7 linked regions of the Homo sapiens genome follow. The protein of the gene in region 3 purifies or fractionates together with the protein of the main gene of each other region. This does not show direct contact. Each region holds a gene or a part of one and is shown on either strand. Other genes may lie near its edges.

Evidence for each region.
Region 1: the proteins of MAP3K3 (region 3) and SCIN purify together in Homo sapiens (tandem affinity purification; one large-scale study listed by IntAct). This does not show direct contact.
Region 2: the proteins of MAP3K3 (region 3) and TUBB6 purify together in Homo sapiens (tandem affinity purification; one large-scale study listed by IntAct). This does not show direct contact.
Region 4: the proteins of MAP3K3 (region 3) and XPOT purify together in Homo sapiens (tandem affinity purification; one large-scale study listed by IntAct). This does not show direct contact.
Region 5: the proteins of MAP3K3 (region 3) and CREB3L2 purify together in Homo sapiens (co-immunoprecipitation; one large-scale study listed by IntAct). This does not show direct contact.
Region 6: the proteins of MAP3K3 (region 3) and UACA purify together in Homo sapiens (tandem affinity purification; one large-scale study listed by IntAct). This does not show direct contact.
Region 7: the proteins of MAP3K3 (region 3) and CPVL purify together in Homo sapiens (tandem affinity purification; one large-scale study listed by IntAct). This does not show direct contact.

What each region holds. Positions count from the first base shown.
Region 1 is NC_000007.14:12,643,606-12,647,762, reverse strand, and holds part of SCIN (scinderin), read right to left. Parts: intron 3,626-4,157; coding exon 3,448-3,625; intron 3,180-3,447; coding exon 3,058-3,179; intron 1-3,057. UniProt on the Homo sapiens protein: Ca(2+)-dependent actin filament-severing protein that has a regulatory function in exocytosis by affecting the organization of the microfilament network underneath the plasma membrane.
Region 2 is NC_000018.10:12,321,478-12,325,634, reverse strand, and holds part of TUBB6 (tubulin beta-6 chain), read right to left. Parts: intron 827-4,157; exon of another isoform or gene 569-826; coding exon 1-568. UniProt on the Homo sapiens protein: Tubulin is the major constituent of microtubules, a cylinder consisting of laterally associated linear protofilaments composed of alpha- and beta-tubulin heterodimers.
Region 3 is NC_000017.11:63,680,937-63,685,093, reverse strand, and holds part of MAP3K3 (mitogen-activated protein kinase kinase kinase 3), read right to left. Parts: intron 3,329-4,157; coding exon 3,195-3,328; intron 2,759-3,194; exon of another isoform or gene 2,336-2,758; intron 1-2,335. UniProt on the Homo sapiens protein: Component of a protein kinase signal transduction cascade. Mediates activation of the NF-kappa-B, AP1 and DDIT3 transcriptional regulators.
Region 4 is NC_000012.12:64,410,375-64,414,531, forward strand, and holds part of XPOT (exportin-T), read left to right. Parts: intron 1-4,157. UniProt on the Homo sapiens protein: Mediates the nuclear export of aminoacylated tRNAs. In the nucleus binds to tRNA and to the GTPase Ran in its active GTP-bound form. Docking of this trimeric complex to the nuclear pore complex (NPC) is mediated through binding to nucleoporins.
Region 5 is NC_000007.14:137,879,615-137,883,771, forward strand, and holds part of CREB3L2 (cyclic AMP-responsive element-binding protein 3-like protein 2), read right to left. Parts: intron 3,015-4,157; coding exon 2,798-3,014; intron 938-2,797; coding exon 862-937; 3' UTR 1-861. UniProt on the Homo sapiens protein: Transcription factor involved in unfolded protein response (UPR).
Region 6 is NC_000015.10:70,658,944-70,663,100, reverse strand, and holds part of UACA (uveal autoantigen with coiled-coil domains and ankyrin repeats), read left to right. Parts: intron 1-2,884; coding exon 2,885-2,950; intron 2,951-4,157. UniProt on the Homo sapiens protein: Regulates APAF1 expression and plays an important role in the regulation of stress-induced apoptosis. Promotes apoptosis by regulating three pathways, apoptosome up-regulation, LGALS3/galectin-3 down-regulation and NF-kappa-B inactivation.
Region 7 is NC_000007.14:29,139,650-29,143,806, forward strand, and holds part of CPVL (probable serine carboxypeptidase CPVL isoform b precursor), read right to left. Parts: intron 1-4,157. UniProt on the Homo sapiens protein: May be involved in the digestion of phagocytosed particles in the lysosome, participation in an inflammatory protease cascade, and trimming of peptides for antigen presentation.

The sequences.
Region 1 (4,157 bases), on a different chromosome or scaffold from region 3:
TTATACAAAATAAACAAAACAAAAAACCTTGACCATTTAGAAGGCAAAGGATTTGTTTATATTATCTTTTTAGAGGACATACACCAATCACATAATCATTTTAAAAAGAAAAACTTTAGCACTTAACTTGACGTCAGCACTGTTCTAATGTTTTATATGCAACAGCTAAGTTAATATTCACAGCTCTATGAAGTAGGTACTAAGATTACCACCATTTTAGAGTTGAGACAACTACAGCCCAGACAGGCTCAGTAACCAGCCTAAAGTCACACAGCCAGCAAGTACTACCACCAGATAAGTGACAGCACATGGGCAGATTGGTTCTAAAAGCTGTGCTTTTAGTTAATAAGCTCTGCTGCCTTGTAGCTGCCTTGTAGGAATCTACACGTGTAAAGCCTACTTTCTGATAGTAATTATAAGATCAAAGATTTGTTAGCAACAATCCTTTGCCTTAAACTATAAAGGGAGCAGAAGGGGTTCCAAATATCAAACAAGAAAATGAGTTGGTGCAGAGGAAATGTATATTTCTCTTAAAGGCTAATATATACGCATAACAAAAAGCCAAAGACTAACAGATCTTTTTTCTTTAAACACACTGAGAACAAAGCCTAGGTACTTATTTTTGTAAAATACATTTTTCTTGGAAACAAACAACTAATTTATAGCAATGTTAATAAATAATTCTAATAAGAAATTATAGGAGCATATGCTGAAAAATAAGTTGCTTGGATGCAATATCAAGTCAAAACAATAAAACAGCAGATTTTTCTGATGACAAATCTATAAAATATAGCAAGTTCAGGGATTTCCTGTAAAGTAGGTGAGCAAATTGTGGTATACAGCAACCAAATATTTATCTCAATGCACTGTTTAAATCTTTAACTTGTAGGTCAAATCATTTATAACCTTCAAGGGAGACTTGAACCACTTCATCTCAAATAATTTTATTTCTAGTAATCAAAATATCTGACAAAATACGTGGGAAATTTTCTTTCCTGTGTTGAAAAATGAAGTTTGCATTTATTCACTAGGGCATGTTGACCAAAATCTGTGGATCAAATTTTATATAAAAGAAGAATTCATTCTTTAAATGAAAAATTTACCAAAAACTTAGCACGTCAAACAGAGAAAGTATAACTTTTTTTTTTGAAATTTAGGTGAGAGGCTGTGGTTCAGGATGATATTTCAGAGCCTAGTGTAAAATCACTCCTGTATTCTTTTGTATTGGATGTTTGTTTGCCTCCAGAATTCCTATGCTAAACCCCTAGCCTCCAATGGCATGGTAGTAGGAGGTGGGGCCTTTGGGAGGTAATTAGGTTCAGATGAGGCCATGAGGGTACAGTGCCCCTGCTTAGTGTCTGTCTTTATAAGGAAAGAACACGACTAGAGCTTGCTCTCTTGGCCATGTGAGGACACAAGAAGGCTAGACAGTGGTCCCTCACCAGACATCAGATCTGCTGTTGCCTTAATCTTGGACTTCTCAGCCTTCAGAACCATGAAAAATAAATGTTTGTGGTTTAAACCACACAGTCAATGGTATTTTTGTGATAGGAGCTTGAACTAAGACATGCATACACATACTTCTAATTTTACTTCTGACTGGACTGGAAGTCAAAGCTTGTAAATGACTATGAAATAAAACATTCCTGTTGATATCAGTTAATTTGTAACTGCATATATAGCTTTCTGTGATTTTTGCCCAATGATCATAATATTTCCATAATATTTTTAATTCAGTCAATATGGTGAAAATTTTTACTCCGCTGGGAAATTGACATGTAAAATTTACATAGTTTGATCAGAAATAATGATTGCTGCCCACAGAAAATGCCAAATTATTAAATTAACACATCTAGCCACATATATATTCATACAGCAACTGCATGCTCACACAGGTGTAAAGTAGCTAGTACTTTTAAGAACAGCTTAATCTATATAGGACATCACAACATTAATGCTTTCACATTAATTATATCATTAATCCTTAAAATACCCTGTGTAAGGAACAGAAAACCAAATACTGCAGGTTCTCACTTATAAGTGGGACCTAAATGATGAGAACACACGGACACATAGAGAGGAACAACACACACTGGGGGCCTATCGAAAGGTGGAAGGTGGGATGAGGGAGACGATCAGGAAAAATAACTAATGGATACTAGGCTTAATACCTGGGTGATGAAATAATCTGTACAACAAACTCCCACAACACAAGTTTACCTATGTAACGAACCTGCACATGTACCCCTGAACTTAAAATAAAAGTTTAAAAAAAATACCCTGTGTAGAGCAAAGGTTGTCACCGTGGTTTGTAGGCAGGCTGAAACTGAGATTCAGAACAGTAGCATGTCTGAAGGTGTCAGAGCCACATGGGAATGCCCTTCCCGGCGTTGTTAGGTTCTATCTCACTGTTTTTTGTTTTTTGTGTTTTTTTTGAGATGGAGTCTCACTCTGTTGCCCAGGCTGGAACACAGTGGTGCCAGTGGCACGATCTTGGCTCACTGCAACCTCCGCCTCCTGGGTTCAAGAGATTCTCCTGTCTCAGCCTCCCAAGTAGCTGGGACTACAGGCACCCACCACCATGCCTGACTAATTTTTGTATTTTTAGTAGAGAGGGGGTTTCACCATATTGGCCAGGCTGGTCTGGAACTCCTTGATCTCGTGATACACCCGTCTCAGCTTCCCAAAGTGCTGGGATTACAGGCATGAGCCACCGCGCCCGGCCCTTTTTTTTTTTTTTTTTTAACGGAGTTTTGCTCTTGTTGCCCAGGCTGGAGTGGAGTGGAGTGGCGCGACCTTGGCTCACTGCAACCTCCGCCTCCTGGGTTCAAGTGATTCTCCTGCCTCAAGCCTCCCGAGTAGCTTGAATTACAAGTGTGCACCACCACATCCAGCTAATTTTTATATTTTTAGTAGAGACGGTTTCTACATGTTGGTCAGGCTGGTCTCGAACTCCTGACCTCAGGTGATCTGCCTGCCTCGGCCTCCCAAAGTGCTGGGATTACAGGCATGAGCCACCGCAACCAGCCCTATCGCACTATTTTTAAGGACACTTACAACAAATCTTCCAGTTTTGTTAGAGCAGCCGTAAAGCCGAGGTGGATGGTCTTCAGCCTGGGTTTCCAGTAGTGGTGAGGTCTGGTAGTCTTTTTTCCCTCCAAGGGAATTCCAGAACTCCTCTGTGGAAAACACACTCAGTTATCCAGTGCATTTTCAGGGACATATGCTTGCTGTCGCTTTATATGAACAAATATTATCTCACCTTGATTTCAGTGTTGAGAAATTACTTAAAGAAATCAGGTACCATCACCCACCCACCTCTGCAACTAATGGAGAGATTGTTAACCCTTATAAGCCATTAGAAAGTGACTTTTTGGTGAAAAAAAGATGATTAGCAATCGTATCAGTATAAATTCTAGTTAGTGCCCTTGGCCCCAGAGCACACACCTGGCTCCTCGCCTTCTTGGATCCTTAAGGTTTTGCACTTTAGGACACTTGCTACATACTCTGCTCCTTTCTCCTCCTCCTGGCTAGCACCTTTTCCTACCCAGATGTAGCCACTATTTTGTGGCAGTTTCAGGACAAAAACATCGTTAGAATTCAGTGAATTTGCATCAACATCAACCTGGAATATGAAGAAAAATAAAACAATGATTCAAATTCATTGCTGCTCCCTCAATAAACATGTCCCAGAAGCTGTGACTGTGGCAAACCATACATCGCCTTCTGCCCTATCCCAGGAAATTAATTCAGAGCCGCTCTGGGACACCACTATGGTATTTTAAACCCTAGAGTAGGAGCACTTCGGTCTGTGTCACTTGTGGATTTGTGACTCTGTGTCTGTCTCTGTGAGAACTGTCTGACCATATGACTGTGCTACTATGTCACTGGTATGACTTTCTGTATAATTGTCAAACAAGTGTGATGTGTGATTCCAGAAAGAGGAAGAAGAACCAGTAAGCAAGACTGAGGGGGAGCAGCTGAGACGGAGGAGGAAAACAAGAGCGTAAAGTGATCTTGAGGCCAAGTGAGGAAAATGCTTCAAGAAGGCAGGGGTGATTTGCTGTGCCAAATGGTGCTGCTTGGCCAACCACACTGAACTGCCAGGATGAAGGCAGCCATGATGTGGAGAGTTGAATTTCACCAGGTTTGTCAGG
Region 2 (4,157 bases), on a different chromosome or scaffold from region 3:
CGGTACTGCTGGCTGCCGCGGCTGGTGAGCGGCGCGAAGCCAGGCATGAAGAAGTGCAGGCGCGGGAAGGGCACCATGTTCACCGCCAGCTTGCGCAGGTCAGCATTGAGCTGGCCCGGGAAGCGCAGCGAGGTGGTGACCCCACTCATGGTGGCGGACACCAGGTGGTTGAGGTCCCCGTAGGTGGGCGTTGTCAGCTTCAGAGTGCGGAAGCAGATGTCATAGAGCGCCTCGTTGTCGATGCAGTAGGTCTCGTCTGTATTCTCCACCAGCTGGTGCACCGACAGTGTGGCATTGTAGGGCTCCACCACCGTGTCCGACACCTTGGGCGAGGGCATGACGCTGAAGGTGTTCATGATGCGGTCCGGGAACTCCTCACGGATCTTGCTGATGAGCAGCGTGCCCATGCCTGAGCCCGTGCCGCCGCCCAGCGAGTGCGTGAGCTGGAAGCCCTGCAGGCAGTCGCAGTGCTCGCACTCCTTCCGCACCACGTCCAGCACTGCGTCCACCAGCTCCGCGCCCTCCGTGTAGTGCCCTTTCGCCCAGTTGTTCCCTGCACCCGTCTGGCCTGCAACAAAGAGAGTCCCGTGCCGTTTAAACAGGAAAGGGCTGCGCCATCACCATGCTTGGTCACCGACAAGGAGGGTGTGAAGTGATTCCATGATGTGCTGTTAGCCAAAGGGAGGGGCCGGGGAAACAGGCACCCACCAACGGTGCAGCTGAGCAGATGCACTGGTACGTTTTTAGGCAAGTCAAAGTAGCTACTGGTCAATTTTAAAGATGTATATACATTTTGACCTGGTTGTTCCATGTTAAAGAGGTAATTCTTGCACATGGTAGAATTCAAAGGGAACAAAAGGTATACATTAAAAAAATAAGTTACTGGCCGGGCGCCGTGGCTCATGCCTGTAATCCCAGCACTTTGGGAGGCCGAGGCGGGTGGATCACTTGAAGTCAGGAGTTAGAGACCAGCCTGGGCAACATGAGGAAACCCCATCTCTACTGAAAATACAAAAATCAGCCGGGCGTGGTGGTGGGGAGCCTGTAGTCCCAGCTACTTGGGAGGCTGAGGCAGGAGAATTGCTTGAACCTGGGACCTGGGAGGTGGAGGTTCTAGTGTGCTGAGATGGTGCCACTGCACTCCAGCTTGGGCGTCAGAATGGGACTACAGCTCAAAAAAAAAAAAAAAGTTCTCTCCTTTGGGCTTTCTGAATCTTATACTGTACTATGTATAAGTATTTTCTTTTCTTTCTTTCTTTTTTTTGGAGACGCAGTCTCACTCTGTCGCCCAGGCTGGAGTGCAGTGGCGCAATCTCGGCTCATTGCAAGCTCCGCCTCCTGGGTTCACGCCATTCTCCTGCCTCAGCCTCCCGTGTAGCCGGGACTACAGGCGCCTGCCACCACTCCTGGCTAATATTTTTGTATTTTTAGTAGAGACGGGGTTTCACCGTGTTAGCCAGGATAGTCTCGAACTCCTGACCTTGTGATCCGCCCGCCTCGGCCTCCCAAAGTGCTGGGATTACAGGCGTGAGCCACGGCGCCCGGCCCAAGTATTTTATTTTTAAAACTTGACACTTTTTCATGTTAATGGAGCCCCTCATTCATCATCCAGAATTACTGTTGCAAAATGTTTGCAGAACCAATTATTTATTCTGCCCCTATAATTAAATACTAAGCACAGGAAGTAATTCCTGCCCTCAAATTGTTTCCAGGCCAGTTGAGAAAAGGAGCTTAATATGTCTGAAAGACTTCTGTATTTTATGCAGAGTTCAAGTAACAAGAAAGAGACCTAGTCTGTTTTCTGCATAATGGTGCTTTTTTTTTTTGAGACGGAGTCTTGCTCTGCCACCCAGGCTGGAGGTGCAGTGGTGCGATCTCGGCTCACTGCAAGCTCCGCCTCCCGGGTTCACACCATTCTCCTGCCTCAGCCTCCCAAGTAGCTGTGACTACAGGCACCCACCACCACGCCTGGCTAATTTTTTGTATTTTTTAGTAGAGATGGGGTTTCACCATGTTAGCCAGGATGGTCTCAATCTCCTGACTTCGTGATCCACCCACTTCGGCCTCCCAAAGTGCTGGGATTACAGGTGTGAGCCACCGGGCCAGCCCCATAATGGTGCATTTTTGCCAGACAGGCTTATGTATATCTTACTTTACCTAAAAAAAATTGAATCTGAAAGATTGGCTCTTAAATTTAAAATCCTATTTTTCATTTTATCTCATTTTAAAATGGATTATTTCACTAGCAGAAGCATTTTTTTCCCAGCTGTAAAAATTACACAGGTTTGTATGTCCATATGAACAGATGCACGTAGGAGTGGGAGGAACTAATTTTTGTTTTTGGTTTTCTGGGCACTACGAGTTTCATATAATGCAATGGCTTTCATACATTGCTGTGAACATCTGTATTTATTTATTTAGAGACAAGGTCTCGCTCTGTCACCCAGGGTGGCGTACACTGGCACCACCCTAGCTGACTGCAGCTTTGAACTCCTGGGCTTAAGTGATTCTCCCACTTCAACCTCTTGAGTAGCAGGGACTACAGGCACATGCCACTACACTTGGCTAATGAACATTTGAAAAAACTAGATACTAGATACCTCTCATTTATTTTAAAGTTAACATCTATTATTTTTCATAAGTCAAATAGTTGCATATGATATAATTTTAATTTCTGGAAACAATATAATCACTTTAAAAAACTCTTCTTCTGTTAAATGTATTGATAGAATATATTAAAAATCAGAAATAATTCCAATCAGTTGAAGTTGATTCTTTTTAATTTCCTGTGATTACAAAGTATTAAATGTTATCTATCTACCTATCTATATCTATTTTTTTCCTATTAATTCATTTATCCAAGGGTGAATATTAAATACTGCCAGAAAGGGCCAAGGCTTGGGATCAATTCTATTCCTCTTAATTTTTACATATATGAGAAATCTTGTCCACAGATATATGTAAATGGGAATGAATTATGTTCTACAATGTCATTCAGTTCTTTGATTGTCTTCAGAGTTACATCCCAAAAATCAAATAGTGAGCTATTATCAAAAAGTATTTTCAAGCCTGGGCAACATGGCAAAACCCCATCTCTACTAAAAATACAAAAATTAGCTGGGTCTGGTAGTGCATGCCTGTAGTCCCAGCTACTCGGGAGGCTGAGGTGGGAGGATCACTTAAGCGTAGAAGATGGAGGTTGCAGTGAGCCAAGATTGTGCTACAGCACTCCAGCCTGGGTGACAGAGCAAGACCCTGTCTCAAAAAAAAAAAAAAAAGTATTTTCAATCATCTGTCACTTAACTCAATTTTGTTTATTTATTTATTTATTTATTTTGAGATGGAGTCTCACTCTGTTGCCCAGGCTAAAGTGCAGTGGCACGGTATTGTCTCACTGCAACCTCCACCTCCTGGGTTCAAGCAATTCTGCTTCAGCCCCCCGAGAAGCTGGGATTACAGGTGCTGCCACCACACCCGGCTAATTTTTGTATTTTTTAGTAGAGAGAGGGTTTCACCACGTTGGCCAGGCTGGTCTTGAACTCCTGACCTCAAGTGATCCGCCCACCTCGGCCTCCCAAAGTGCTGGGATTACAGGCATGAGCCACCGCACCTGGCCAACAACTCAATGTTGAAGAAAGCAGAATTGGAAACGACCTAACTTGCAGGTCATGACATTTTACATCAGTCATTCTTTTCTTGTTTCTGAATGTAAACCAAAAAGGCTTAACCAAGACTTACTAAATACACTCTCACTCTTTCACTTTAAGGCAATTTATTCCAGTATACTTAGAGTTGGGAAAATTGAAATACTAATTTCTAATATGACTTTGTCAATTTAATTTTTAATAAAATGTTTTAAATATTTATTTTCATGAAATTTTGGGCTGCAGATTTAACTAATTCAAGTCATAAAAACTTGCATTGCATTATACAGACCTCTCCCCACTTACTCCAACTTGACTTTTGTCTACACACGGCTGGTGGCAACAATTCACAGCCACTGCCAAAGACCAGCCTCTCTGGTTTCACGTGGGCAGGTCCATCCCTGATGCTGCACTCACCCTGGGGGCACTGAACTATGAAGCAGTGAAACCACCAAGGCTGCCTCTGAGAGCTGCCAAGTGCTACATCGGGTAAGCAAGCTGCCTTTCACTTGT
Region 3 (4,157 bases):
CACTACAGGCCTAGAAAGGTTAGGAGACTTGTCTAAAGTCATAAAACTAGTTAGTGCACAGCTGATACCAGAACAAAAATGTCCCAGTTCCTGGTCCAATGCAGAGGTAATAGATATCTAAATATAATAAAATATTTCTCTGGCCCCTGGTCAAATGCAGCAACAAAAGGCCTTTGGAATCCCTTTTTCTCCAATCAATGTCCTGAAGGTCCTCCCTTTCATTTTCTCTGCACAAAAGTTGGGGTGGGGTCTTCAATTTCAGAATATTCATTATCCGAGCTCCAACATTAAACATTACATAGGGGCCAGACTTGGTGGCTCATGCCTGTAATCCTAGCACTTTGGGAGCCGAGAGGGAAGGATCACTTGCACTCAGGAGTTCAAGACCAGCCTGGGCAACATAGTGAGATCTTGTTTCTGTTTAAATATTTTTTTAATTAATTTTAAAAAATTACATAGGGAAACAAAGTATCAGAATTATGAAAATTCACTAACGACCTCCATAAAATTAGTTTCCAACTCAAATATTTTTTCCCATTTAATACCAGGGTCCATCCCCACCCATAATTTCAAATGCTTTAAGTCATGTTGTCACACATGATTTTTTAAAATCTGCCAATCAAGGCAAATTAATTGCAAAGTAAAACTGCAAATGTTGCTAAGGATATAGGATAGCCAAAGTGGATGAAACCAACATCGGAGAGAATTGCTTTAAATCCATCAGATGCATATTTGGCAAATTTAGACTAGTTAACAGAAAAAGACAAAATGGACAAATAAATAACATGGCAGGTGTGGTGGAGGAAGAATACCAAAGATTCACAAGAGGCCTTGGGGAAAACTGCTGAGTCCTGTGAACGCTCTTGTAAAAAATGACGTTCTTTATGGTTAGAAGTCAAGCAGGGAGTGAAGGACGTTACATTGTGCTAGCATTTTGTTGTTGGTGCTGTTGTTCGAGACAGGGTCTCATTCTGTCACCTAAGCTGGAGTGCAATTCACTGCAGCCTGGGCTCAAGTGATCCTCCCACCTCAGCCTCCCGAGTAGCTGGGACTACAGGCAGGTGTGCCACTATGCCCAGCTAATTAAATTTTTTTTTTTTGTAGAGACAGGGTTTTGCTATGTTGCCCAGGCTGGTCTTGAACTCCTGACCTCAAGCAATCCTCCTGCCTTGGCCTCCCAAAGTGCTGGGATTACAGCTATGAGCCACTGCGACCGGACTGACATAATTTTTGTTGGAAAAATTAGGCCAAAAAATTAACATGAATCATGCTTTGCTCATTCTAAAAATTAGTAAATAGATGCAATTATTGCTTAAACCTGATTAAAGAAAAAACAAAACTTATCATATTTTCACTTTTCAGTAAAGTCACACTGGAATATTCTTTTATTACATACTATGCAGTGTTCGTTCCTGTTAAGCAGATTGATCTCAAATGGCCTGTTACCAGGAGCAATTCTCTTCAGCTAAAGAGGCAGGCGCTGGGGGAGGACCTTGGCAATCCCCAACCACTGCCTTCCTTGGCCTCTTTCTAAAAGTCTGTCCTCACTGGGAGTCAAATCCTCCCAGGCCTTCCAGGGCCATGCAGGCAAAGTAAAAAAGTGAAGGGGGCAGAGTATAGGACCATGGCGAGGGACATAGACTGAGGGCAATCAAGCTCATCTGCAATCTCTGGGATTTTACACCCAAGTCACCCCTAGAACAGCTGATGTCCAGAAGTGCCCTGGTTAGAGAAACCAGAAAGGATGGTCAGTAAAATGCCCAAAAAGGAAATCTGCAGCTAATGGCACTCCAGGTCACTACTCCAAACATGAATTTATCTGGAAGGCAGGAGTATAGAAGGAAGAAGAGTACAAAGGGCTTCTCATAGCCTACATAGTTTGAATAATGAAAGAAAAGTTACAAGAATCAGCTTTTTATAAGATCTCCCATGTGACAGCACAGGCCCTTCTGTTGGACATTTTCCCCTTAAGAAATTTCCCCTTCTCAGGCCAAGCCCAGAAAGTGTAAGAGCAGCCTTTTCTTTTACATCAAAGCAAGTTTATTGAAAAGACCAGAATGAAGCTAGAGATCTCATGCTTGGTGAGTTCACTAAGCCAAATTGCCATTTGCATCAAGTAAGCCACCAATTTAAAAGCTAGCCACTAAAATGGCTGAGCCACTGTGGTAGACACACCCTAAGGTGATTGCTCCCTCTTCCAATTAGTCCCAATGAACTGCCTTTCCCTTTAGTGCAAGTAGAACCTGTGACGTGAGTCTAGCCAATAGACTATGGCAAAGAGGATAGAATATTCATTCCTATGATTATGTGATGTTTTATGACTCCATCTTTGCAGATTGGAGCAAAAGATTCTCCTGCTGGCTTTGAAGAAGCTGCCATGTTGTGAGAGGGCCCCATGGCAAGGAACTGCAGGTGGCCTCTAGGAAGGGAACTCAGAGAAGCCCTTGGGTGACATTCAGAAGAAAAGAGGAACCACAGTCCTACAGCCACAAAAAAACTGAATTCTGGCAACAACCATCTGAGCTTAGAAAAGAGCCTCAAACTCAAGAAAGGCAGGCAGCCTGGCTGACACCTTGATCGCAGTCTTGTGTGACCCTCAGCAGAGGACCCATTTGAGTCATGCCTGGACTCCTCACCCAGGGAAACTGGAAAATGATAAATGTATATTGTTTTAAGCCTCTAGGTTTGTGGTAATTTGTTATGGAGCAATAGATAACTAATACAACTGTCTACCATCATAAATGATCAGCCTAACCAATCCTACAGTGTAATTTTGATATGGTTTACTCCTTACCTTTCATCAAGAAACAGCAAAACTAAAATATATCCAATGAAAAACATAACCTGTCACTTTAGAACCAGTCGTATGTTAAAACACTACTGAAATGAGCTGGGCGTGGTGGTGCCTGCCTGTAGGAACAATGAGAGGACCACGATGAAGAAAAATCTGTTAAATCCTCACCCAACAACAAGGAAACTATGTAGTTTAGATCCTTTAGATCCCATCTTTGGCAGAAATTGTTATTTGGCCCTTAAAAAGGGACAATCCATATTTGGGCAGGCCTGGTTTATAAAAGAGCTTTCAAATGGGGTTCATGTCCCTCAGTTCTGCACTGTGACTACTAAGAACCCCTTGTTATGAGCTTGGTCTGCTGATACAGGCCACAGGCATATCCCAGCCCCCCTATACTCACGCACTGCTCGCTGGTCTCTGGGATGAACTCCCCCTCACTGTTGATGCTGGTGTAGGACCCCTGCCGGGCAATGTGCTGCTGCCGCTCAGGAACATAGCCAGGGGGAGGTGAGCTTCGGCCAGGGTTCTGGGAGCCTAGAGCACATAAAGGAGGCTTTCAACAACAGAGCCCAGGGTGTGTGGCCCAAGAGGAGCAGGCATGGGGCCAACTATTAGGCCCTAGAGGTCAGGAATGTGACTCAGATGGGTCATGGCACCAACGTCCAGCATGTGCCAGCTCCCTCAGGCAAACAAAGTCCCTTCCTAATAGGAAACAAACTCCAGAGATGGAGCAGGCACTACGGCATATCCGACCAAAAAAACCTTGACACAAAACAGAAACCAGAATAACCCCTAGGAGACCATTTTAGCTGGCAATCAGACTAGCTTTTAAAAAAATTCTTATATATAATTACTCCTTCATAATGTCACCTTCTCTCTTCCTCTAGAGCACTAATGCCATTTCCTCCCATCAGCTCAATACATCAGCTTAGTCCTCTTTAGTTTTGGGTCCAAGCAGTATTTTGAGGGTGGGGACCAGGGAAAGGTAACTGAATATACCTGTGCATCTCTCTCTGTTGCCCTGTTCCCCCAGCCAGTGTCTCCCCTTATTTGTTCTCTACTTGTATCAGGTAAAAAGGCCTTCGTGATGGTCTGGCCAGGATCAAAAGGCAGGCTTCTCCATTCCTACCCACTCCCACACTTCCTGGCTTATGAGTAATGATATTACCTTTTTTTTTTTTTTTTTTAAATTGAGACAGGGTCTCACTATGTTGCTCAGGTTGGTCTGAGTAATGATATTATCTTGCATTTATGTGGTGCTTTACTTTTTGTTACACATTCACAGTAATTAACCTCATTTGATTTTCAACATCTCTACAACAGAGGTTTGGCAAATATTTTTTGAGTGGCTGCTAAGTGGCAA
Region 4 (4,157 bases), on a different chromosome or scaffold from region 3:
AAAGGATTCGTTTAAGAGACTTTCCATAGCAGCAGACATGTGTATTTTATTTTCTCTTTCCTTGGCTTGATCTATACAAGCTGTTTTAACACTTACCTTAATGATTTTTTTTTTATTTTAATTTTTTTCTAGAGATAGGGTTTCACCATCTTGCCCAGGCTGGTCTCGAACTCCTGAGCTCAAGCGATCTGCCCACCTCAGTCTCCTAAAATGCTAGGATTATAGGCATGAGTCACCCTGCCCGGCCACATTAGTGATATTTAACTTTCTTGTTATTTGGTCTAGGCAGACATAAATAAGCAGTTATGATAGGTTATGTCTTAAGTAAAATGGTTACATGACAAGAATCCATTATAAAGTGCTGGGATAGTTGGATAAATGTAAACAATTAAATATAATGTAGCCTACAACTATAATCATGACTATAGCTGAATGATAGAAAAATATAAAGAATGAGCCTATAATTAATTTTTTTTAAAGACGTGGGCATTTGGAACTATAGGGTAAGTGGAAAGGAAAGAGGCATTTTCTTTTTACTTTTCATAGCAAAGAATACTTTTTATAAATGAGCTAAATGAGGTTAACAATCTCACTAAAAATTATAGCAGTTTTTATTCTTATTTTAAGAAAAAAATCTTTTAAAGCAGTAAAAAACAATCCCAACTAGTTTCTAATACAGTACCATGTGCATGTCTCTGCTACTAAATAAGTAACGAGCCCTTCAGATACAGGAAAATAATAGGAATTGAGATTTAAGTATCTGGCTAATTACAAGATACCTATCAAACAAGTTAGGACATCAAAAGACATTTAAAATCCATGTCTTCTGTGTGTAAACAAATCTTTCTTGTCATAGGGTTTTATGCTACCTACCTTCAAACATAGTTGAAGTATCATAGATCTTTACCTTTAGTCTAGCTTGGTATTGCATGCTTGTAATTAAAAGCCTTTGACTGTATGTTTAGTTATTAAATGGCCTTTACTGTTATTTTTATGTGCCTCTTGAAATCTTTCATTTCTTAAGTTCCAGCATCCAATTTTTGGATGAAAGAGGCATTTTCTTTGCCTCTTAAGTTCCAGCATCCAATTTTTTTAAATGTGCCATGATTTCTTTTTCAGAAAATTAAAACCAATACATTATTAGTGGTTTTAATACAGAAGCTCTGCTTTTTGTCAGTAAAAATGGGTTCTGTCACATACGTGTTTTAAGCATCCAGGTCCAGGCATAATTCAGTATCCATTTAGCCAATCTGAATAACAATTTATTAGGATGAAAGGGAAGAAATCTTAAAGTGAATTCTGAAAGCCCTTTTGTTGCAGTTCGGGAGTAGTGGAAACTTAATTCAGTTTGGTGGTGAGAAGAATGACTGTCTGCCAACCCCAATTGCTCAGTTGTCTATCTGTAATTCTCTGTTTTTTACATGGGCAATAAAAGTTGAACTGACTCTTGTCACATAGAGTCAGTCAACCATTAGAAAAAAGGTATGGGGTAGAACTAGGTGGTGAAAGCTAGGACTTGTTTGTCAGTGTTGTAGAATTTTGTTTTTTTAATTGTTAGTAATGCATAGATTCAGAATACAAAGGCTTTGTTTAAAAACTAAAAACTTCCACGTTATCTCTCCTCTCCTTCCTCTCACCCCTGCCCCGCCCCCCGCCCTTTTTTTTTTGAGACAGAGTCTCACTCTGTTGCCCAGCCTGGAGTGGAATGGCACCATCTTGGCTCACAGCAACCTCCAACTCCCGGGTTCAAGAGATTCTCCTGCCTCAGCTGGGATTAGAGTAGCTAGGATTAGAAGCACACACCACCACGCCTAGCTAATTTCTGTATGTTTGGTGGAGACGGGGTTTCACCATGTTGGTCAGGCTGGTCTCAAACTCTTGACCTTGTGATCTCCCTGCCTCAGCCTCCCAAAGTGCTGGGATTACAGGCATGACTCACCGCGCCCAGCCTCCTCCTTTTTAAAAAATAAAACACTCGTCTTTGGCTTAAAACCTGTTATTATTTAAAGAAAATGGTATGTCATGACATTTCTAGCAGCTGAAACCACCTCTCCCCTCTTTTGTAAGTGAAATATTAGGTGGTAATGCAACATACATGATTAACTTCTACCTTGTCCTCTGGCCTCTGAGATATTCCTAAAGAATACCCTATGTTTCATGGACTGCTGTTAGAAACAACTAAGCTAGTACTATCTTTTATAGCTGCCTGTGTTCTTATAGTCTTAACTTCTAAAGAGAGACATTATTTACTCTGGGCTGTTTTCCAATACCAACAACCAACTCTCTTGATTTCTGTGGACACCAACTGGGTGTCCTACAAATCAATTCAATTCTGACACTACCAGGATTAGCATCACATCCCACAAGTTATGGGCTCGGTCTTACAAACCGCCCCCACTTAAGACACTAATTGAGTCCAGAACCTCTCATATTTCTGATGATGGAGTAGCCTACAGAACTTAGAAAAACAGTTGACTTTCTTGTGCTGATGAAGGATCCACCTCATGAGCAGCCACATGGAAGCGATGCATAGGGCAAAGTATAGGGGAAGGGGCACAGAGCTCTTGTGCCCTCTCTAGGAACACCACCCTCTCTAGGAACACCACCCTCTCAGCATCTCGATGTGTTTGCCAACCTGGAAGTTCAAGAGTTTTTATAGAGCTGAATCTTGAGTCCCTTCTCCCCTTCCCAGAGGTTGGTGGTTAGGGTAAAAGTTTCAACACTCTAATCAGTTGATCTTTCTGGTAACCAGCTGTATCCTGAGGCTGTCTAGTGTTCCCACACCAAGTTACCTCATTAACATAAACTCTGTTGACCCCGAAGTCTCTAGTGATCCTTCCACCTTAGCCTCCCAAGTAGTTGGGACTGTAGGTGCACGTCACCACTTCTGGCTAATTTTTAAATTTTTTGTAGAGACAGGGTCCCACTATGTTGCCCAGGCTAGCCTTGAACTGCTGGCCTCAAGTGATCTTCCAGCCTCAAGTGATCTTCCCACCTTGACCCCCCAGAGTGTTGGGATTATAGGTGTGAACTGCTGTGCCTGGCCCAAAGGACTCATTATAAATAACAAAAGACGGTCCTGTCGCTCAGGAAATTTTCCAAGAGTTTTAAGGGCTCTGAGCCAGCAACTGGCTGCAAAGCCCAAATGTATTTTTTCGTTATACCATATATTTAATATTATATTTGGTGATCTTCACCTAATCATCTTCATTTACCTGGTCTTCTGTCAGTGGGAGCAGCCATTGAGACCATGTATGAAAACCCATTCCCTCATTCATACAGTTACATAGTATAGGAAACTATCACCTAAATATAAATACAGTGGCTTTGATCTGTAACCCAAAGAAAAAAATAACTTTACATCTCGATGACCCAGTGTGTGTGTATATATTTATAGGTACATATGCACATAAATAACTAAAACAAGTTACAGAAAGTAATATTCTTGCTAGGGTATAGTACAGAATATCTAATATTCTCTATTTCATTTTTAAAAATTATTGTTCAGGACCCATAAACTGATTTCATCACTAGTGGGAGACACCACCGTTTTAAAAATATTTACCAATTGAAATTAGGTTTCTCTAAGGCTAATGTTTCTTTTACCTCATGTCAGCTTTTGTTTCATACATAATTGCTGTCAAATCATCTAGCAGTGCTTCCAGTTGATGTGCAATTTTCTTGTCTATTGGAGATACTTGTCACAAGATGTTCACTACTATTTGTCCATTGCCATGTGTGAAACCTGCATCTGGTGCAACATGCTGATGGGAAGAGTGCCTGAAGTAACTCCCATTTTCCCAACAGTTTGGTAGAGAGCGTATGGACTTGGTGCTGCATCCATTCTAGAGTACTCTTGCTCCTTGTTGGCACTGTTACTTGTGATTACAAGGCCCTGAATTCATAAACTTAGAGATAAAAAACTTCCTCGAGCTTTGACCTTTTCAGTTACTTAATATTTTTCAAAATTCATATCATGCACTTGTACTCCAATTTTAATCTCTTTAGGGAACTTACATGATATAATTAAAGACTTGAAATACTCTCCTGTGTAACAGTAGATCAGATAAGGTACACAGTATGTTTTATCTTTTATAATCACCGCTTTAATAGCAGATGTGCTATTAAATAGGAAAAGTGCCCTTCACGTGCCATTT
Region 5 (4,157 bases), on a different chromosome or scaffold from region 3:
GACACGGGATCCCAGAGCCTAGGGTGCCCTCCTAGCTCTGAAGGCTCGCAGAAAACTTGGCTAGCTTGAAAGGAGGCATCGATCTCTTCAGTGTGGTTGCTAGCAGGAAGCCTCGGCAAGCTAATAAATACTATTTACAACTGGGGAGGAGAAGCTGGGGAGGCAGAACTATGGATGTGTGGGGAACCAGGTTGTGGGAGGTCCTAAAAGCGACAAGATGGGGCAGGTTTGCCTGGAGTAGAAAAGCCTGATCCCCTCAGGCATTGCACTTGCGGCCTGAGAATATGAACGAGAGCCCTCGCCTGCCAGTGCTGCTGCAGGAGACGAGACGATCCAGCGAGGGCTCCCAGGGGGCAGAGTGGGCGGAGGGCTGCTGTCGGGGGTGTTCACACCAGAGACCCCAGTGCGAGCAACGGAGGACACGGGTCAGTGCTTTGCCAAATACCAACAGGCATTATGGCATTTTTGTGGCCAGAGTCTGGGGTCTTGACTGAACAAGAGCCATCTCGTCTCCAAAGCGGGGGGTTACACCTCACAGGTGCACATTAGGCAATATCTTTTTGGCACTATTGGTGGAAACAAGCCTGCTTGTCCCACCTCCAACCCCTAAAATAATTTCCTATGGCAGTAAGAGAAAGGAAGGGAGGGATGCAGGCTCCCTTCTGCACAGGAGGGGCATGGACCAGGGGGAGATGCTCTCTCACTGCAGGGAAGTCCCAGGCTGGTCTCCAATCTGAAGCCACTAATGCTTGCCCATGTCTCCATGAAGATCCAGTGGCAAAGAGGAAAAGCTGATGACAAAGGTGGTTTGGGGATGTAAAAGTAGAGTTAAGGGAAAGGGAGGGGGTGCAGGCAGCCTCTTTAGAAAGTGGTGTTCACTCTTCTGTCGAGTTCTACAACTTTTAGTGTTTCATTCCCCTCCAGTTTGGCGCTGACCCTGTGAAGGCATTAAAAGGAAAACGAAGTATTAGTCACCAGCTGTTAGCTACAATTCTCATGCTTTGTAGCGTGATGCAATCATTCAGGGGTTGCAACTTGGTGAGACGGCCTGGGCATGTTTCTTGTCCTTTTCTCTCCTAGTAGCAATTCTCTGTTTCCAAAGTCCCCTGCTACCAGCCTCTCCACTAGTCCACATTCCTACCTTTATCTACACCCAAGGCATCCCAACCCTACTAAGGATAATCATGGTGGCTTGATATTGATCTGCTATGAGATGCATTAAATTATTCTATTTACTTAGGATGTTTAGCCCTATGCTAAACTCAGGGAAGGAGAAAATAAAATGATAAGAGCTGATCCTTGGCCTAGAAGAGCTAATAATCCAGATAAAGATTTTTAACAATGAGCTAATTTGAAATAATAATAAATCCATAACAGAAAATAAATACATTATTAAATTGTGTAACAACCTGGAAAATTTCTAGGCATTCAGAGGAGGGCTAGGAGGCTTTGTTATCTAGGAGACATCACAGAACAAATGGGATTTGAAGTGGGCCTTGAACAGCTTAGCTGAGAGAAGAGAAACTGTGTCCAGAGCCAAGTAAGAAGGCACTGGGTCTTCTAGAGATCCCAGCGGTGGCTACATTGGCAAGTCTCTCTATGACGGGAATAATAATGATGCCTTACCACATGGGATACTTAAAAGGATTTGTATGATACTGTTTCAGTAGCCCTCATCCGAAAATCTAAAATCTAAAATGCTCCAAAATCTAGAAATTTCCGAGCATTGACATGACGCTCAAAGGAAATGCTCACTGAAGCATTTTGCATTTTTGGATTAGGGATGCTTAACTGTTAAGTATAATGCAAATATTCCAAAATCTGAAATCTATAACACTTCTGGTCCCAGGCATTTCAGATAAGGGATAGTCAACCTGCCTCACATCTGTAAAGTGCTTAAAATAGTAAGTGCTAGTAAATGTTAAATATGTATGTATAATGTACACACATAAAAGTACTTCATTATAAACCTTCCCCTGCAGAATTAGGGGATGAAAGCTGAAGAATCTGAAACAAAATCTTTCCCATTTACATCGGAACGGCCTCATTTCTGGGAGGCATAGGAGCAGAGTTCAGCTAAATCACCAACCATGTCACACGTAACCAGGAGCATGCATGCAGGCCCAGGGACCTCCCCTATTACAACAACAATACCTTGCAGTCGCATAAGCCTTTATGTTTACAAAGGGATTTTTCCCAGAAACTGAGAAACAACTCATGTAGAATTGGAGCCAAATAGAGGTTGTTCTCAATATGGAAATGTGTGCACAGTGCCTCTTAAATGGTACCCCTCAACATACATCTATAAGTATAAAACTATAATATGTATAGTTTTAATTAACACATGTGTATTTACATATAAATCATAAACATATATTGACATATAGCACAATATATATCTACTCCCTAGTTGAAGCCATGAAACATGTCTTAAAGTTGGATTTGCACAGCAAACACACTGTGGTTACCTGGGCTGTGCATTCACTCGTGTGGCTTGGAAGGGAGGATGGAGACAGTGGGGGAAGGGATTCAAGCACTTCTTTGTGCCACCACGCCAGCTCCCCGCTGATGCAGCAGACATAGGGGAGCTCACGCTGGTTTTTTTCCTCATCTCTGCTCAGGGCAACTGTTGGCCAGCAACAGACTCTCTGCAGTCCCAGGTCCTGGAAATAGGTCCTGAGAGAGCTGAGGGACTGAACCAGGCCTATGGAGAGTCTCAACCTCACATCTCAGGTTGCTGACTCATAACCCACCATCAGTGCACTAGAGGAGTTGGCTCTGTGTCTCTATGACTCACAGGTGCTGCTGCAGCTCCAAAAGCACTGACTTCTCCAGGCTGGTCTCATTCGAGATAATGAAATGGGGAAGATCCACATCCGGCCTGGACTCCAGCCCTGACACCCTGAGCAGGGAGGAACCTCTATCCCAGCCCCCCAGCTCCCCAGCCGAGCCCGGGCTGGATGACTCCTCTGGGGGAGAATGTTCCTCGTAGATCAGCAGGTTTCTGGATCTCACTGAGGACAGAGCAGAATAATAAGGTGTTAGCAAAAGACCACAGGGGTCCAACACATTCCCTCACTCCAGGTGCTCAGGGCTGGTGGCAGATGACAATGTGTGTGTTCTCGTTGCCCAGAACCATGGGTGCCAACAGAATTTGGCTTTCTATAAAGACTTTAGAGCTTCGGAGTTTGTGCATTGAAAAATTATACCAATTATACAGTGCTGGAAGAACAATAGAAAAGCAAATAAACACAAGGCAAACTACCACCCCCACTGCTTTGAAAATATAAAACTCCCCCCTTACCACCCATAACCATCTAGGGAAAATGATTCATGGAGAATGGGAGTGGAATACTTGGAGATGTCCAGACCCAGCTAAAAGAAGCAGCATTCCCAGTGAGTAGGTCTGGCAGGGGGATGAGGTACAGGGCATCTCATTTAGAAAGGGAAGAGGAGACACAAAGCCAAAGCCATAAATCAAAGGATAGAGACAATCTCCTTTGTTTTGTAGGACAGTCACACAGCTAGATGGCTCTGTAGCAATTTTCCATGACATAGAAACTATGCTTCCAATTAAATTTAGAGAGATAGTTCCTTGGGGGGAAAAATTCTCAACAGGCCACTGAAATTATTTAATTGGAATGCTAGCACTTCTGTCATACCTGGCAGAGACACACCTGCCTGGTGAAGACCACAGACGTTTCAAGATGGCAAAATTTTCCCTATCCCAAATCCAGTACAGTAGTCCTCCCTTATCCATGGGGAATACATTTCAAGACCCCCAGTGGACGGCTGAAACCGAAGATAGAACTGAACCCTATATATATGGTATAAGGTATATATGTATGGGAAAAACCATACAGGGTTTATATATGGGCATATAGCATGTAGGGTTCATATGCCTTTTCCTATACATATGTACTTATGATAAAGTTTGATTTAGAAATTAGGCCCAGTAAGAAATTAACAATAATAATAAAATAGAACAATTCTAACCATATCTTCTAATAAAAGTTACATGAATGTGGCCTCTCTCTCTCAAAATTTCTTATGGTGGTGTACTCAGCTATTTTCAGATAACTGCAGGTATTTTTATTGGCTGCAGGTAGTGTTTCTTACTATAGTGTATTCAGCTATTTTAAGGTAACTGCAGGTAT
Region 6 (4,157 bases), on a different chromosome or scaffold from region 3:
AAAAATGTTCTCCCATTCTGTAGGTTGCCTGTTCACTCTGATGGTAGTTTCTTTTGCTGTGCAGAAGCTCTTTAGTTTAATTAGATCCCATTTGTCAATTTTGGCTTTTGTTGCCATTGCTTTTGGTGTTTTAGACATGAAGTCCTTGCCCATGCCTATGTCCTGAATGGTATTGCCTAGGTTTTCTTCTAGGGTTTTTATGGTTTTAGGTATAACATTTAAGTCTTTAATCCATCTTGAATTAATTTTTGTATAAGGTGTAAGGAAGGGATCCAGTTTCAGCTTTCTGCGTATGGCTAGCCAGTTTTCCCAGCACCATTTATTAAATAGGGAATGGTTTCCCCATTTCTTGTTTTTGTCAGGTTTGTCAAAGATCAGATAGTTGTAGATATGTGGCATTATTTCTGAGGGCTCTGTTCTGTTCCATTGGTCTGTATCTCTGTTTTGGTACCAGTAGCATGCTGTTTTGGTTACTGTAGCCTTGTAGTATAGTTTGAAGTTAGGTAGCATGATGCCTCCAGCTTTGTTCTTTTGACTTAGGATTGACTTGGCGATGCAGGCTCTTTTTTGGTTCCATATGAACTTTAAAGTAGTTTTTTCCAATTCTGTGAAGAAAGTCATTGGTAGCTTGATGGGGATGGCATTGAATCTATAAATTACCTTGGGCAGTATAGCCATTTTCATGACATTGATTCTTCCTACCCATGAGCATGGAATGTTCTCCCATTTGTTTGTATCCTCTTTTATTTCATTGAGCAGTGGTTTGTAGTTTGCCATGAAGAGGTCCTTCACATCTCTTGTAAGTTGGATTCCTAGGTATTTTATTCTCTTTGAAGCAATCGTGAATGGGAGTTCACTCATGATTTGGCTCTCTGTTTGTCTGTTATTGGTGTATAAGAATGCTTGTGATTTTTGCACATTGATTTTGTACCCTGAGACTTTGCTCAAGTTGCTTATCAGCTTAAGAAGATTTTGGGCTGAGATGATGGGGTTTTCTAGATATACAATGATGTCATCTGCAAACAGGGACAATTTGACTTCCTCTTTTCCTAATTGAATACCTTTTATTTCCTTCTCCTGCCTGATTGCCCTGGCCAGAACTTCCAATACTATGTTGAATAGGAGTGGCGAGAGAGGGCATCCCTGTCTTGTGCCAGTTTTCAAAGGGAATGCTTCCAGTTTTTGCCCATTCAGTATGATATTGGCTGTGGGTTTGTCATAGATAGCTCTTATTATTTTGAGATACGTCCCATCAATACCTAATTTATTGAGAGTTTTTAGCATGAAAAGTTGTTGAATTTTGTCAAAAGATGGGGTCTTCTATGTGGCTTAGGCTTGTCTCCAATGGGGTCTTGCTATAGGCTGATCTCCTGGGCTCAAGTGATCCTACTGCCTCAGCTTCCTGAGTATCTGGGACTATGCTTTTAATTATGCACTAATACACATTGAAATGCTAAGTAAAACGGCCCAGTCACATGTAAATTGTTGCTGATGTTTCCCTATTTCATAGAATTGTTTGAGTTATTTTTTAATAGAAGAAAGGTTTTTTGTTTTGTTTCTTTTTTAGTGTTTATTTTTTAACACTGTAGGCCTACAGATTAAGGATGGCAAATTGTGGATTTGGATCTTATCCAAAGAGTATAGTGTCCCTTTAATAATTGGAAATATTTGTTTATTGTTTATTATGTTCATGACCCTGTGCTAAGTGGGATAAAGAAAGTATGCCATTCCTGTCCCCAAGGAGTTCTGGGTAGTTAGAGAGGCAAAATACAGATTCATAAAAAGTAAAAATCACAAGATGAGAGATGTCAAATGTAGAACTGAGAATGCAGATTCTAAGTGATAGGGGTTTCCAGGAAGGAAAGATTAGTGGTGTGGTAGAAGCTAGTTTTTAAAGAAGGGAGTACCTGGCTTGAACTTGTAACGTAGATGCTATTTTGGTAGGTGAAAGGAAAGTAGAGGCTCTTCCATCTAAAGAAAATAGTGTAAAAGAAGCGTGGAGATGGAATACAAGTGGCATGGCCAGAGGGCAGTAAAAGCCCTGCCTGTAGAGTAGTCCCTCTCTTATCCACTGAGGGTATGTTCCAAGATCCCCAGTGGATGCCTGAAACCATGGATAGGACCTGCTGAATGAACCCTATATAAGCTATGTTTTCCCCCCAGATATACATACCTGTGATAAAGAGTAATTTATAAATTGGGCACAGTAAGAGATTAATAACAACATAATAAAATAGAACAATTATAACAATATGTTGTAATAAAAGTTATGTGAATGTGGTCTCTCTCTATATCTCAAAATATTGTATTATACCATGGGCAACAGAAATAGAGAAAGTGAAACTGCTCATCGCAAAACTGCCAATAAGAGGGGACTGCTGTATTTGAAAGTTAATGTTTGAAGCCAAACTGTGGAAGTCATTGAGAACCAAACTGATGAATTTGGATTCTCTCATGTATGTAAAGAAGTGTCACTCAAGGTTTTTGAGCCAAAAGTGATGTGAGGAAATAGGTACCTTAGTCTCAGAGGCATGGTAAGGAATATAGTGTGGAGATAGTAAGACAGGATGGGAAGCGTTTGCAATAATCCAGACATGTGATAAGTGTCTTCAGAAGTTCATGGCACTAGATATGAACTAAAGCAATAATTTGATGTTGCTTAGGGAAAGTAGCATTACTGTCATTAGCCACACATTCTTTACAGAAGTTTATATTGTTACGTTTTGAAATTCTGCATCTGGTAGGTCCAAGGTAGTTTGTTGTTAGAAGTAGCAGGATCGCCTTAATAATAATAATAGTTTTGTAGCATGAAGCCTGAGCATTGTCCAAAGTTTGGAAATGTGAACGCTGATAGTCACATCTGTCCATCTTTCCACATTTCTAGGATGCTGACAGACAGCACCAAGAAGTAATTGCAATTTATCGGACACACCTTCTTAGTGCTGCACAGGTAAAGAACTACTTCTCCTTTGGAAAGAATATTGCTTTAGAGATAATAATTTTTTATTTTCAAATAAATTTATGTGAAAGTAATTGATGTTTAAAGTAGCTGCACCCCCTATGCTTATTTAAAAATAATTATGTTTCTTTTAATCATTGTTTGTGGATCTCCCAGAAAAATTTACAAAGCTATATGGCAACACAACATCTTAAATTTAGTGTCGTCTCCATCTGCTTGTCACTCAGTTTATAGACAGTTTGGTAACATGTGATGGTAGCACACGTTAATGGTGTTGCTAGCTGGAGATAATGCCTTGACATCCACGTGTGGCTGTCATCTAAGAGGAGAGTGGGAATGGCTTTGAATACTAGAAAAGTACAAAAGTGACAAGCAGGGTGTTATGTGTATAGGATTGTAGTAATTAAAAATGATCTGTTTTACCAAGCCTTAACTTGGCTTGGTAAAGCCAAGGATTAATTAAGGAATAACAGTATGAATTCCCTTTTTTAGGGGTGTACTGAGAAAGTTATTGTTAAAATCATACTAAGAAATTACTAACATATAAAGGATACTATGCTTAATTTCCTGTAGAAACCCCGTGAGCAGCATCTTCAAAATTCTCAGAATAGATTTTTTTTCAGGAAGAAAATGTACTAAAAGAAACAAATTTTAGAATGACAGAGATCCTGGGAATTATTTGGATTTGAAGTATGTTAGGCCACACTGTAAAAACAAGCAAAAAAAAAAAAAAAAAAAAAAAAAAACAAACAAAAAATGAAGAAGGGAAAGATGGATGTTGAGAGAAAGCTTCAAAAAAAGAACAATTTTAAAAAGAGAACTAGATAAAATAATAAAAAGAAAGATACTTTATGATATCAAATTCTTAAAATCAATAGACCTGCCTCTTCTATAGGAAATGGAGGGGAAACTAATGAAAAAGAATGAATGATATGATAGAACAAGGGATCTTAGCTACTCTCTTTTGAGCAAATCAGAGATAAACTAGAATCTTAAAGTTTATTGCAATTATTAGAGAAGATTATTGAGGGACAGTGAATAGGAAGTTCAAGTGGGGAAATAGCAGAAAATCTGTATTAGAGAGGCTGAGAAACTCACTAGTATTGGCCATGAGAGGAAGAGGTTGCTCCTAATGAAAAATACAGCAAACTAACAAGCCTTTCCACTTTGTATAATATGCACTTCCGGAATTTGAAAT
Region 7 (4,157 bases), on a different chromosome or scaffold from region 3:
GTCTCGGATTTTGCAGACACCAATGTTCAGGCACACGTGTACACAAGAATGGTGGAAAGAGTCATGGTTTTACATGGAGTGTGCAGTCTGCCAGCTCAGAAATCTCCTGTGTCCCAACGGCACAGGCGGTTCATTCTCCTGCCAGCCAAGTTAATTCTACCAACATGCCAATAGTTAGAAGGGGAGAAAACAAAACAAAACAAATTATTTCCACTTGACTTGCTGATTGCTAATAATATTCTTCATCAAGTAACCCAGGCAGGAACACTTTTCATCTTCAGAATTAGCTATGGCTGCCATTTCCCCTTTTGTCAAATACAGGGAGATATTTCCCACGGTCTGCACATGACTCAGAATGGCTTCATCTTTATTTCACGTTCTACATTTCTTGTTGCTTGACTTAGGAGCATATGAGCTTTTCCCTAGCCAGGCCTTTCCCTGCAACCTACCTACCCTCCCTCAGCACTAAACAATCACATTTCTTGATCCATTCAAACATGCAGGCCTCGGCTGGACACAGTGGCTCACACTTGTAATCCCGGCACTTTAGGAGGCCGAGGCAGGAGGATTATTTGAGCCTAGGAGTTCAAGACCAGCCTACGCAATGTGGCAAGACCCTGTCTCACATCAAACAAACAAACAAACAGGCTTCTACCCACACTCTTCTATACAAATAGTTTTCTCTCCTTTAACAGAACTCAACTCTTCAGAGATTTTCTAACCATACAGTAAAGGGTGAGACACTTTGCTAAAACTTGTGGAGTAGTTAAAGATGAAAAGGGGACAGTATCCACCTTCAAGGAGCCCTCATTCTAGCAAAGAGAGACATGCATGAAAACCAGTAAACCCTAAATACTGTCATAAAGCATGAGGAATGCAGTTCTGTGCCCCACTACAAATAAACACTGCACTTAGTAAAGTCCTCACTGGAGGAAGACCCCATTCACAATGCAAATCCTATTACTCACTATACAACTTGCTACTTCTAACTTTGGGAAAAAAGCATTGAGGAAGCAGCATAATTCTCAGGGCTTCCATAGTCAACTGGGGGTAATCTTGCTCCAGGCTACACATTCTATCGCACCCTCTCTCCAAAGACTCCCCAGGGAAGGAAAATAAGAAAAAAGCAAAAAGTGACCTTAGACAGGCACAACTGTGGGACAATGAGGGAAGGCAGAAGATTGATGGGGTAAAACAAATGCATAAGTGAAAATAGAGCTTTTCTCCACTTCACCCTTAAATAAGCCAGGATTTTAGGTATGATCTTAAGGAGAATGAATGAAGTGATTGTTGAACTCAGGGAAGTAGGAAGGTTGCATGACCTTTGTACCAGCTTTAGGGGCTGGCATTTCTGAGAGAGGCTGGCCCTTCCTGTAGAGTTCAAGAAGTTGGGTGAAAACAAGGCACAATCAGAGGGCAGACATCCTGCCAATTGTGCAACAACCAATTGTGCAATGTGCTTTGAGCTTCCCTGCTGATCACCTTCTCAAAACAGAGGGGCCACAGTAAGGAGCCTACATGTGCAAACGCCTAACACAGTACCTAGCATACAGTCAGTAGCATATAGGAAGGCAATGCAGTCCGGTGGGAATAGCATGAAAGATTTAAAGTATGCCCTCAGACCGGGCACGGTGGCTGATGCCTGTAATCCCAACAATTTGGGAGGCTGAGGTGGGCGGATCATGAGGTCAGGAGTTGGAGACCAGCCTGGCCAACATAGTGAAACCCCGTCTCTACTAAAAATACAAAACTTAGCTGGGCATGGTAGCACATGCCTGTAGTCCCAGCTACTTGGGAAGGTGAGGCAAGAGAATCGCTTTTACCCAGGAGGCGGAGGTTGCAGTGAGCCAAGATCGCCCCACTGCACTCCAGCCTGGGCGACAGGGTGAAACTCCATTTCAAAAAATAAAAATAAAAAATAAAAAAACAAAGTATGCCTTCACAGCTTCAAATGTGGCTTCTGCCACTTAAAAACTCTGTACCTTGGCCGGGCGTTGTGGCTCACGCCTGTAATCCCAGCACTTTGGGAAGCTAAGGCAGGCGGATCATGAGGTCAGGAGATGGAGACCATCCTGGCCAACGTGGTAAAACCCTGTCTCTACTAAACATATAAAAATTAGCCAGGCGTGGGGGTACACGCCTGTAGTCCCAGCTACTCAGGAGGCTGAGGCAGGAGAATCACTTGAACCCAGGAGGCAGAGGTTGCAGTGAGCTGAGATTGTGCCACCGCACTCCAGCCTAGGCAACAGAGTGAGACACCATCTCAAAAAAAAAAAAAGTAGCTGTTGCCTTGTGAAAAGATAGACAAGTTCATTAAATTACCTGGCTTCTGATCTGCAAGTGGGTTACCTGGAAAAAGCGTTGTATGCTCTAAAAGTCCTAGATAAAAAAATTTATTTAACTTTCTCTTCTTCTTTCCTCTGCCTCACCTTACCCCCTGAACTTCCCAGAATGGGAAAAGGAAAGACTTACTTCACTTTACTAGTGCAGATATGGTCTTTTAGTTAGGAACTGTGGTCAATTATTAATGAGAACTGCAGCTATAGTAACACTGTAGATAAACAGGCATTAAAATACTAACAGATCATTGAACACCTGTATTTATTTTTTGCTCCAAGGACTCCATATATTCAGATTTTCTTCAAGATCTTATCCTTTTTTCTCTTTCCGTACATTCCCATTCAACCACCCCTTGAGTATTAATCACTAGTCCAAATGTTTGTTCAGTCCTGACATTGCTATTGGGCATTTCAGGACAGTATCACCACTGTCAGCTGTCACCTCCAAAAGGATAACCAATCAGCCCCTCAAACCCACTGACTCTATAACAGGACGTCATCATTCTCCTCAAACTTCCTCCTTCTATGACTTCCAGATACTTTTTTTTTTTTTTTTGAGACACAGTCTTGCTCTGTTGCCCAGGCTGGAGTGTAGTGGTGCAATCTCGGTTCACTGGAGCCTCTGCTGCCGGGTTGCAGCGATTCTCCCGCCTCAGCCTCCTGAGTAGTTGGGATTACAGGCATGCACCACCACGCCTGGTTAATTTTTGTATTTTTAGTAGACACAGGGTTTCACCATGTTGGCCAGGCTGGTCTCAAACTCCTGACCTCAGGTGATCTGCCCGCCTCAGCCTCCCAAAGTGCTGGGATTACAAGCATGAGCCACCATGCCCAGCGACTTCCAGATTCTTAATGATGCTCCCTTATAATTGCAGATGCCTGAGTTCTAAAACCAGAAGTCCTCAAGTCAAATCTGTCACCAAGTGCTATTCTACTTCCTTTTTTCTCCATTCTATCCACAGTTCAACCCTTACTTGCCCCGAGACATTTACAAAGCTTCCTAACACATCTCTCAGACTTCCGGTCCTTTTCCCTCCAATTTAGCCTAACACTGATGCTTCAGTGAGCTTTCTAAAACACAAGGCACTCCATTCCTCCCATGCCTTCAATGGCTCCCACCTGCAACCAGGAAAAAGTATAAACTTTCTACGATGAAATTTAATGTCCTCCATGATACAACTTCAACATAACTTTTCAAACCAAAGTTACATGATTCCTTCACAAACTCTTAGCCTATGCTCCGCCAAATCAAAACTCTCCTTGTTCCCTAACCCTACCCTGCCTTTTATGTTTTTACAGCTTTGCTGAGCAAACCTCCAGGCAAACAGTAGGAACTAATCAATGCCAGTTGATTAATCAATTGAAATCAATACCCTGGCTTCTAATCAATAATAGAATCTAGGTAGATTCTAGATTGCAAAATTCTTTTGACTTTTCTGAAAGTTTAAACCTTTTCATAATCAAACACTGGGAAAAAATTAGTTAAATGAATAAATAAATGAGAAAATGAATCGCTTGGGACCTGGGTTACATTCTCTCCCAAGAATCATACAGTACAAAAAGATATGTGGCACTATCTTTTTGAAAGAGGGGTAATGGGATACAGAGTCCCAAAAAGGAAAGGAGGAAGAGCTTACCTTTAGGGTTCAAAGTAAATATTTTGGCCTGTAAACAATTCTAAGCAATTTAAAGACAACCAATAACTAGAATCAGACTAGAGAGAAAAAGGTAGGAGGTAAGTTCCAACTATATTGGAAAGATAAGCTGCTAAGAATTTGCTTTTTCAGGCTCCAAGATCTAAGGACACAGTCCTTCCCC